Linked DNA regions of Homo sapiens: region 2 is linked to region 1. A link means that fine-mapping ties the variant in region 1 to the expression of a gene that starts in the linked region. Tissue or cell type: whole blood. Region 1 holds a variant in brackets; the other region holds the start of a gene. All regions are shown on one strand. Distances are from middle to middle.

Region 1 (5,148 bases):
TGGTAGCTCATGCCTGTAATCACAGCACTTTGGGAGGCCTAGGTGGGCAGGTCACCTGAGGTCAGGAGTTCAAGACCAGCCTGGCCAACATGGCGAAACCCCATCTCTACTAAAAACAGAAAAATTAGCTGGGCATGGTGGCACATACCTGTAATGCGAGCTATTCAGGATGCTGAGGGAGGAGAATCGCTTGAACCTGGGAGGCAGAGGTTGCAGTGAGCCAAGGTGGTGCCACTGCACTCCAGCCTGGGCAACAGAGCGAGACTCTATCTCAAAAAAAAAGAAAAGAAAGAATTCTTGTTCCGAGTGGGAGAGATTGAATTATCATATTTCCTTGATTCCTAGACACTGTCCACTCTAAGTCATAGTATTGATTTAATAACAGAGTTTCAGTCGATTGATAAACACTCTCTCTCTATGTGTGTGTGTGTGTATATATATATATATATATATCTGTTATAAATTGAAGCCCGATAAACCCAGACACAAAATGCATCTTAGAGTTGAGAAAATGCAGTAGTCGAACTTTATGATTTCATAGATACTTAGCCTTAGTAATTCTATGCCTTTGGATTTTTTTCCTATTATGACAACTACAGCATTATTATTAATAGTAATGACCATCAGCAAACACCCAATGACAAATAAGAAATGACACCATTCTTAAGGAGTTTAGTTTGCTGAGAGACAGGTAAAACACCTCATATAATTTTGTGCCTAGTGTTCTTCATTGGGTGCTGACTCAAGAAATTCACCTCCCCACCCCACTGGCTGAATGACAGGCAGCATTAGCCATTTAATTCTCTTAATCTCAAGGCGGGGCCCTAAGAAAGTCTGTTGCAGAAGGGTAATTGGCCTATTTACTTGCTCCCTTCCTCTTAGCCCAGCCAACCCAACTCTAGCCTCTGGTTGACCAGGTGTTGAGGTGCCTTGAGGGGATAAGCTATAATAGTTAATGTATTACATGTATCCATAAAAGATTAAAGATTAGCTCTGTTTTAGCTGAACTGTAACTGTCTGTTTGGGTTTCTCCCCTCCCGGGCTGTCTGGGGAAATCAGTGTTGGTTTTAGTCTGAAGATAATTAACCGATAATTAACCCACTGGGTCTCAAATTTCCTGGACAGCTCCCCTTGAGTGTGTGATTACTGGGTGCCAGGCTCTGTGGTAAGCACTTTCTGTGAATCTGTATTTTTTTTTTTTTTTTTTGAGATGGAGTCTTACTCTGTCACCCAGGTGGATGTGCAGTGGCATGATCTCGGCTCACTGCAACCTCCACCCACCAGGTTCAAGTGATTCTCCTGCCTCCGCCTCCCAAATAGCTGGGATTACGAGCGTGCACCACCACACTCAGCTAATTTTTGTATTTGTAGTAGAGACGGGGTTTCACCAAATTGGCCAGGCTGGTCTCGAACTCCAGACCTCAGGTGATCCACCTGCCTCAGCCTCCCAAAGTGCTGGGATTACAGGTGTGAGCCACCATGCTCAGCTGAATCTGTATAATTCATTTCCTCCTCATACTAGCTCTCAGAAGCAGGTGGTATTCTCTCCATCTCACAGCTGCCAGAATTGCAAGTCTGCTGTATAATCTATGTGGAAGTAAAAGAGTTTGTTTCTGGTCCCCTAAGATCTCATCACAATTACCCCCTTCCTTGGGTCAAATGGTTTTATGCCATTATTTATGCCATCAACTCAAATGTTTTCTGGAGGAGACTCTTTGTACAACCCAGAGGAGAGGAGAAAGCCCAAAAAGACTTCATGGAGAAGCAGAAGGGCAGAGGTTAACACACTAGTGCTTAGGACTTAAGATGGGTCCTGGACATGGTGGATCATACCTGTAATTCCAGCACTTTGGGAGACCGAGGCAGGTGGATCACTTGAGCCCAGTAGTTCAAGACCAGCCTAGGCAACGTAGGGAGACCCCATCTCTACAAAAAATTAAAAATTAGCCAGACATGGTAGCCCTCGCCTGTAATTCCAGCTACTTGGGAGGCTGAGATGGGAGTGTCATTTGAGCCCAGGAGGTCAAGGCTATAGTGAGCTGAGATGCTTCCACTGCACTCCAGCCTGGGTGACAGAGCCAGACTGTCTCAAAAAAAAAAAAAAAAAAGAGAATTAGTGAAAAGAACATTGTAAGGAGAGTTGGCATATTCTCCATATGGGCATAGCAAGCACATTGTGGCACACAATACAGTCAGCACTTACTATGTGCCTGCGGTAGGAGAGGCACCATGCTGAACTTTGGGAATATAAAGAATAACTGGGACAACCTAAACCCCTGCCCTGAGAGAGTCCACATTCTAGTGATAAAATATTAAATAATATTAAAAATGGTTACAAAAGAAAGAAGGTGGAAAATATTTATGATATAATATTAACTACTCAAGCCAGTTACAAATGTACAGTGTGATTTTAATTATATAGAGTCCTTAAAACATCTTTACACAGGAGAAGAAAACATAGCACTCTAATACTAACAATAATTGCCTTTGTTTAACTTTGTTTAATGGGACCAGAGATTATTTTATCTCCACTTGTCTCTGTTTTCCTTTTATTTTTTTTTTGAGATGGAGTCTCACTGTGTCACCCAGGATGGAGTGCAGTGGCGCAATCTCAGCTCACTGTAACCTCCACTTCC[A/T]GGGTTCAAGCGATTCCCCTGCCTTTTTTTTTTTTTTTTTTTTTCGAGACAATGTCTCACTCTGTCACCCAGGCTGGAGTGCAGTGGCAAGATCATAGCTCACTGAAGCATCAATCTCCCAGGCTCGAGCAATCCTCTCGCCTCAACCTCCCAAGTAACTGGGAGTGAGCCACCACGCCCAGCCTATCTTCCAAATTTTTGATGAGTGTGGGTTACTTAAAAAGAGTAAAAGAAAATAACCTTTTTTTCCTTTTAAATGAAAAAAAAATGGCCAGGCGCGGTGGCTCATGTCTGTAATCCCAGCAATTTGGGAGGCCGAGGCGGGCCGATCACTTGAGGTCGGGAGTTCAAGACCAGCCTGACCAACATGGAGAAACCCCGTCTCTCCTAAAAATACAAAATTAGCAGGGCGTGGTGGTGCATGCCTGTAATCCCAGATACTCAGGAGGCTGAGGCAGGAGAATCGCTTGAACCCAGGAGGTGGAGGTTGCAGTGAGCTGAAATCGCGCCATTGCACTCCTGCCTGGACAATAAGAGAGAAACTCTCTCAAAAAAAAAAAAAAAAAGCCTGCGCAGTGGCTCATGGCTGTAATCCCAGCACTCTGGGAGGCCAAGGCGGGTGGATCACGAGGTCAGGAGTTCAAGACCAGCCTGACCAATATGGTGAAACCCTGTCTCTACTAAAAATACAAAAATTAGCTGGGTGTGATGGCACATGCCTGTAGTCCCAGCTGCTCGGGACGCTGAGGCAGGAGAATTGCTGAACCCAGGAGGCAGAGGTTGCAGTGAGCCGAGATGGTGCCACTGCACTCCAGCCTGGGTGACAGAGAGAGACTCCATCTCAAAAAAAAAAAAGAAAAAAAAAAAAAAAAAACTTGAAACAAACAAAATGTCCACACACAAGTGGATAAACAAATTGTGATTTATTTCTACAATGGAATACTACTCAGCAATAGAAAAAAACTACTGATGTACATAAGAAGATAGATTAATCTAAACTGAGCGTGGTGGCATGCAACCATAGTCTCAGACATTCTGGAGGCTGAAGCAGGAGGATCCCTTGAGCCCAGGAGTTTGAGGCTGCAGTGCGCTATGATTGTGCCACTGCACTCCAGCCTGGGCGATGGAGCAAGACCCTTTCTCTAAAATAATAATAACAATATTCTAAGTGAAAGAAGTCAGACACAAAAGAATATGTAATTTATGATTCCATCTATGTGATATTCTAGAAGAGATAAAACTAATCTACAGTGAGAGAAATAAAATCGTGCTTGTCTAGGGCAGGAAGTAGGGAGGACTCATTGCAAGGAGACATAAGGGACCTTTCTGGAAAAATGGAAATATTTATATTTTGATTGTGATGTCAGGTGCTCAAGTGTGTATATTTGTCAACACTCATCAAGATGTACATTTAAATAGATACATTTTATTTTATTTTATTTATTTGTTTTGAGATGGAGTTTTGCTCTTGTCACCCAGGCTGGAGTGCAATGGCATGATCTCGGCTCACTGCAACCTCCGCTTCCCGGGTTGAAGCGATTCTCCTGCTTCAGCCTCCCAAGTAGCTGGGATTACAGGTACCCACCACCATGCACAGCTAATTTTTGTATTTTTAGTAGAGACAGGGTTTTGCCATTTTGCCTAGGCTGGTCTTGAACTCCTGACCTCAGGTGGTCCACCTGCTTCGGCCTCCCAAAGTGCTGGAATTACAGGTGTGAGCCACTGCGCCCGGCCTACCCAGATGCATTTTAATTGTATGTAAATGTAAATGTATCTCAATAAAATTGATTAAAATAATGAAAAACATTTATAGTTTTTTTTCTGGTTACAAGAGCATTATGTGCTCATTGTAAGAAATTCAAATGTATTTTATTTTATTAATTATTTATTTTGAAATGGGATCTCACTCTGTCACCCAGGCTGGAGTGCACTGGGCACTGCAACCTCCACCTTCCGGGCTCAAGTGATCCTGCCACTGAAGACTCCCAAGTAGCTGTGAATGGCTGGGCGAGGTGGCTCACACGCCTGTAATCCCAGCACTTTGGGAGGCCGAGGTGGGTAGATCACCTGAGGTCAGGTGTTCGAGATCAGCCTGGCCAACACGGTGAAACCCTGTTTCTACTAAAAGTACAAAAATTAGCTGGGCATGGTGGTGCGTGCCTGTAATCCCAGCTACTCGGGAGGTTGAGGCAGGAGAATCGTTCAAACCTGGGAGGCAGAGGTTGCAGTGAGCTGAGATCACGCCACTGTACTCCAGCCTGGGTGACAGAGTGAGAATCCATCTAAAAAAAAAACCCAAAAAAAACAAAAAACAAAAACAAAACAAAATACCAAGTAGCTGGGGACACAGGCACCCACCACCATGCCTGGCTAATTTTTTCTATTTTTGGTAGAGATGGGGTTTCACCATGTTGCCCAGGCTGGTCTCAAACTCACAAGCTCAAGCGATCCTCGCGCCTTGTCCTCCCAAAGTGTTAGGATTACAGGCATAAGCCACTGTGGCAGGCCTAGA
Region 2 (5,148 bases), 62 kb after region 1:
CTCAAAGCCTTTTCTCCCTAGACCAGGCACTGACCCAGAGAGGGGTGTACAGTGTCTGATCTCAGGAACAGGCTCAGGCACCCCCTTGTGAGACACTCTGGAGAAAGCTGTGCGTGCCATGGCCACGTTCTGATAATAGCAAGCAAGTATCACGCAGTTACTATGTTCCAGTCACAGTGCTTCAGCTTTTGCTTGTATTCTGAGTTAATTCTCCCAACAATCCCTTAGAGATACTGTAAAATCCCCATGGGAAGAAACCACAGATCAGAGAAGTGATTACTGGCTAAGCCACACACTGCAAGTTAGCAGGAGGGCTGGGACATGAACCCAGCACTCTTGCTCTCTAGTGTTCAGGTGTTCTCAATAGTAACATTATTTCCATCTTTCCAAAGAAGTCACACAGCTGAGAAGCTGCAGGAGAAGAGCCATTCCTCCACATGGCGCTCCTAAATCACGGCAGAGAAGGGTAAGCAAGCTAACAAAAACCAGGGCACAAACTATACACCGACGGAGGTAGGATCCCCAGAAACCACGTTACTAAGAGAAAAGCAGGGATTTTCCTGGGGTCATAGCACTCCACCAAATCCCAGGTCCAGAATACAACTTCCACCACACTCTAGGCCTGTAAACTAAAGCAACTAGAAGCTCCTAGTGCCGTGCAATCTCCGAAATCATAAGGCCAAAGAACAAGATATTCAGTGGGGTTAATGAAGAAAGCCTCTTTCTGAGCCCATCGTGGGCCTCAATGTTCTTCCTGTAAAATGGGGCTATAGCGTAGCTTGTATTGCTGGTTTAGTCCTGAGGACTTAGGTTAAAGGCGAAAAAAACTCAGAGCCTGGTATCTAGTAGGTGCATAATAAATGATAAGATGTCCATTATCGCTGCTGCTGGTAGTGGTGGGGGAGTGCGAACTGTCAGTCTGGTTAGGTCCAGCCTAATTCCCGGTCTCCCTGCAAAGCCCCTGCGGGCTATGCCGGGATGCGAATGCGGGGGGGTGGAGGGGAGCGGCGCGAAGGGAGGGTGGGGGAGGAATTTCTGGAAAACAAACTTCTGGGCCTTCAGACCACTTACTTAGCAGGGCGCAGCCTAACCCGCGCTTGGCTTCGGAAGCCGCGACCAGGGTTGTCCCCTCTCCCCCCAGCTTTGGCTGCCGCCGCCGCGTACCGGGCGGCCCGCCAAGCCCCCAGAGCCCCTGCGCTCTCCCTCCAAAGCAGGAGTGCGGTGGACATAGGATGAGGTCGACTTTCACTGGCCAGTCCCAGGTGCCTACGCCCCGCGCTGGGGGACAGGAGCCGGGAGGCACCCCAGGAAGGGTCCTCTGCCCGCCGGCCCCCGCGAAGAGGAAGGGACTCCGCGGAAGGGGGCGGGGAGGAGGAGTGGTCTGGCCGCTCCGGCCGGGATTTGCCTGGACTTGAAGACGCTCAGGAGCCCAAAGCTCGGAGAGCCTCCAGAAGGCTTCTCCCTCATTGGCCAGGAGTCCGAGGGAGCCGAGGAAGGATCCGCGGCCCTGGGGTGGGGCGGTGAGGGAGAGGGGGAGAGGGAGGGAGGAGGGGGAGAGGGAGGGGGAGAAGGAGGGAGAGGGGAGACAGAGTGGGGGAGGGGTGCCGAGGGCCGCGGCTGCCAGTTGATGCAACCCGGGTCCCGGGTTACGCGCTCGGCTTTCCCTCCCCGAGCCCAGGACACACCGACTCAGCTCCGGACAGCCTGAGGCTCAGACGCGGTTCGGGGTTCCAGGGAAGAGGGGCGTCGCGCGGCCGCCGCTTACCTCTCCGGGGCCCGAGTCGCCGACGCCGCCCGGGGCGAACCGCAGGTAGTCCTTGAGCTCTGCGCGGCACTCGGAGTCCGCCACGATCATGGTGCGCGCCAGGACCCGGTCGCGGCTCGCCGACGACCCGTGCACCCGAGTGGGTTTCGGAGGGACGCCCGAATGAAGCCGGGACTGGGCGCCGCCGGGGAGCTTCTAGAACCCCGGGGCGTCTCTCGGGGCTCCAGAACGCTCCGGAATCCGAGAACGGCCGCTTTGGTGCTGGACTCTTCCCCCAGTCGGGCTTCGGGAACGGCGAACGGCCTCGGGGGCCTGGGAAGGGCCGCAGCGCAGGGGTTTTCACGGCCTCGGAAGTCCGCAGGGGCCAGGGCTGCTCCCGGACCCAGCGCTCCTCAGCATCCCCGCCGCGGAACTGCCAGCGCTCGCCGGGCTCTGACACCAGCAGTTCAGCCCGCTGCGGTCCCCGGGGGAGGGCGGGGACACAAAAGCCCGGCGGTCCAGCCAATCAGAGGTCTGTTTCCCCGGGGAGGCGGGGGAAACTCCGCCCCCTGGAGTCACGGGCTCCGCCAATCAGCACCGGGGAGCGCCCGGAATTCTGGGAGTTGTAGTCCGCCTCGGGTGAATGCTGCAAACTTTTGCAAGACGGTTTAGTCAGATCCCTGGCAACACCAGACGGCAGTGACAGCCCTAAGAGTCATTAGGGTTGCGTGATGAAAAGGGACTTCACTGGGCTAGGCCAAACAGCCGAGTGTGAAATCTCCTAAATGAATTCTTCATCTTTTCAGTTCCTGGAGGGACTGGCTAGGGTTAAGAGAGGTTTGGCTCGCGTCCTATCCGGTGCTGCTAATTATAGAACTGAACCCCAGATATTTAGAGGTCAGAGGGCACAACCCTGCTCCCCCTGGCCTCGGGGAAGCTCCAAAGATGCGAGACACAGGGAATTCACCTTATTTGTGGAGCCTCAGGAAAAGCCTTCATTCCTTGAAATGTCATTGGTAACTTCGTGTGGAACCTCAATCCCTATTGCTGGAAGTTTTCTTCCTTCTGCTACCCGTCCTGGCTTCCACCCCTCCCACCCTCCTCGAAACTTTGTAACAAGGTGTTCTGCTGGATCTTTGCTCACCTCTCCCTCTGGCCTTCTCTGACTCCTCTTTCACCACCCACTTCCTAAAACGTGGGTGCTTCCCCAGTTTGTTTTTGCCCCTCTTCCCTCCAGACACTCTCCCTGATCTCATTCACTTCCTGGCCTTCAACTCGCCTCTTGCCAGAAAGTTGCCTCTACCAACACCTCAGCACCTCCAAGCTAAATTCATTTTCTATTCATTTCAAACGGAGCCTCTTCCTTCACAGTTTTCCTTCAGAGCTCCTTTTTTTGTTTCCATTTTAAAGTTATTGTTTATTCTAGACAGGGAATCCTGCCAGGGGTGAGGGTGGATAAGACCCCCAAGTCCCCCTCTGAGACTTCTAAGTCTAAGCTTACAATTCCAAAGATGAAACCGACTTGGTTTCCTGCCTCCAGATTCTTGGGAAAAAGAGATTAATCTCACCCTCCCCTGAGCTCCCAAGGCACTTGAGCTGGATCTCTTTTCACATGTATCACATTCTACCTAGTTTTTTTTGTTTTTTGTTTTTTTGTTTTCTGTTTTTTTGTTTTTGTTTTTTGTTTTTTAGTAAATAGAGACAGGGTCTCAATATGTTGCCCAGGCTGGTCTCAAACTCCTGAGCTCAAGCGATTCTCTCACCTCAGCCTCCCAAAGTGCTAGGATTATAGGCATGAGCCACCATGTCCAGCCACATTCTGCCTTGTATTGTAATTTTCTATGTACATGTTTTATCTGACCCTTTTTTCTTTTTATTAGTATTGTTTTTTAGAGATGGGGTCTAGCTCTGTCACCCAGACTGGAGTACAGTGGCATGATCATAGCACGCTGCAGCTTCAAATTCCTGGGCTCAAGCGATATTCCCTCCTCAGCCCCCCAAATCAATCACTGGGGTTACAGGTGTGCACCACTGAGTCTGGCTTATCTGATCTTTTTAATTGTAAACTCCTTGAGGGCAGGGTCAACATCTTTTTTTTTTTTTTTTTTTTTTTTTTAAACAGAGTCGCACTCTGTCTCCCAGGCTGGAGTGCAGTGGCCCGATCTTGGCTCACTGCAACCTCTGCCTCCCAGGTTCAAGCAATTCTCCTGCCTCAGCCTCCTGAGTAGCTGGGATTACAGGCAAGTGCCACCACACCCGGCTAATTTTTGTATTTTTAGTGGAGACAGGGTTTCACCATGTTGATCAGGCTGGTCTCGAACTCCTGACCTTGTGCTCTGCCCGCCTCAGCCTCCCAAAGTGCTGGCATTATAGGCATGAGCCACCGCGCCTGGCTGGCAGGGTCTACATCTTGACATCCATCTCCTGCTCTATGTCACCTAGCAAAATGTCCTGACAATCATATGCCCTTGGTCACGGAATCTTCCTTTGCATCAACTTCCTCTCTAAACTACCCTGTGTCAGCTTCAGCTTTCATTTAAAAAATTTACTATGTGGCCAGGCGTGGTGGCTCACGCCTGTAATCCCAGCACTTTGGGAGGCCGAGGTGGGCGGATCACGAGGTCAGATCAAGACCATCCTGGCTAACATGGTGAAACCCCGTCTCTACTAAAAATACAAAAAATTAGCCAGGCGTGGTGGCGGGTGCCTGTAGTCCCAGCTACTTGGGAGGCTGAGGCAGGAGAATGGCGTGAACCCAGGAGGCAGAGCTTGCAGTGAGCCGAGATCGTGCCACTGCACTCTAGCCTGGGTGACAGAGTGAGATTCTGTCTCAAAAAAAAAAAAAAATTTACTATGTAATGTCAAAGTCCAGATCAAAAGGCTTCACTGGTATTTCATCAGCTACAGAATTAAGATCAAACTCCTTGGGTGGGCATGGTGGCTCACGCCTGTGATCCCAGCACTTTGGGAGGCAAAGGCAGGCAGATCACCTGAGGTCAGGAGTTCAAGATCATCCTGGCCAACATCGTGAAACCCCATCTCTACTAAATATACAAAAATTAGCCAAGCGTGGTGGTGCACGCCTGTAGTCCCAACTACTCGAAAAGCTGAGGCAGGAGAATCGCTTGAACCCGGGAGGCAGAGGTTGCAGTGAGCTGAGATCGTGCCACTGCACGATCTGGGTGTCAGAGCGAAACCCTGTCTCAAAAAAAAAAAAAAAAAAAATCAAACTCCTATCTTAACATTCAAGGTTTGCCAAGATGCACCTAATTTACCCTCCCATTCTTACCACCTGCAACATCCATGTTTCTTGTTTGGCCTTCAAATCTTTCTTTCAGTACTCTTCTTGCAAATCTCTACCCATTGAAATAGTATCCATCATTCAATGCCTTCATTCCTGTTTG

What was found. PIP is the estimated chance that this variant, and not a neighbour inherited with it, causes the effect.
Region 2: SESN2 starts here. The variant in region 1 is fine-mapped to the expression of SESN2 in whole blood (TOPMed, PIP 0.97).

Annotation. Positions count from the first base shown.
Region 1 is chr1:28,318,159-28,323,306 of GRCh38, reverse strand. No RefSeq gene overlaps it. Among named protein-coding and RNA genes, the nearest start is that of MED18, 8.3 kb to the left of the region's middle. The variant A/T (reference allele first, on the strand shown) is at 2,637.
Region 2 is chr1:28,256,555-28,261,702 of GRCh38, reverse strand. SESN2 (sestrin 2) reads right to left here and starts at 2,185. Exons shown (of 10, transcript NM_031459.5): 1 at 1,766-2,185. The coding sequence starts at 1,855. RefSeq lists silencers at 1,275-1,334, 2,115-2,324 and enhancers at 1,594-2,442, 2,435-2,614.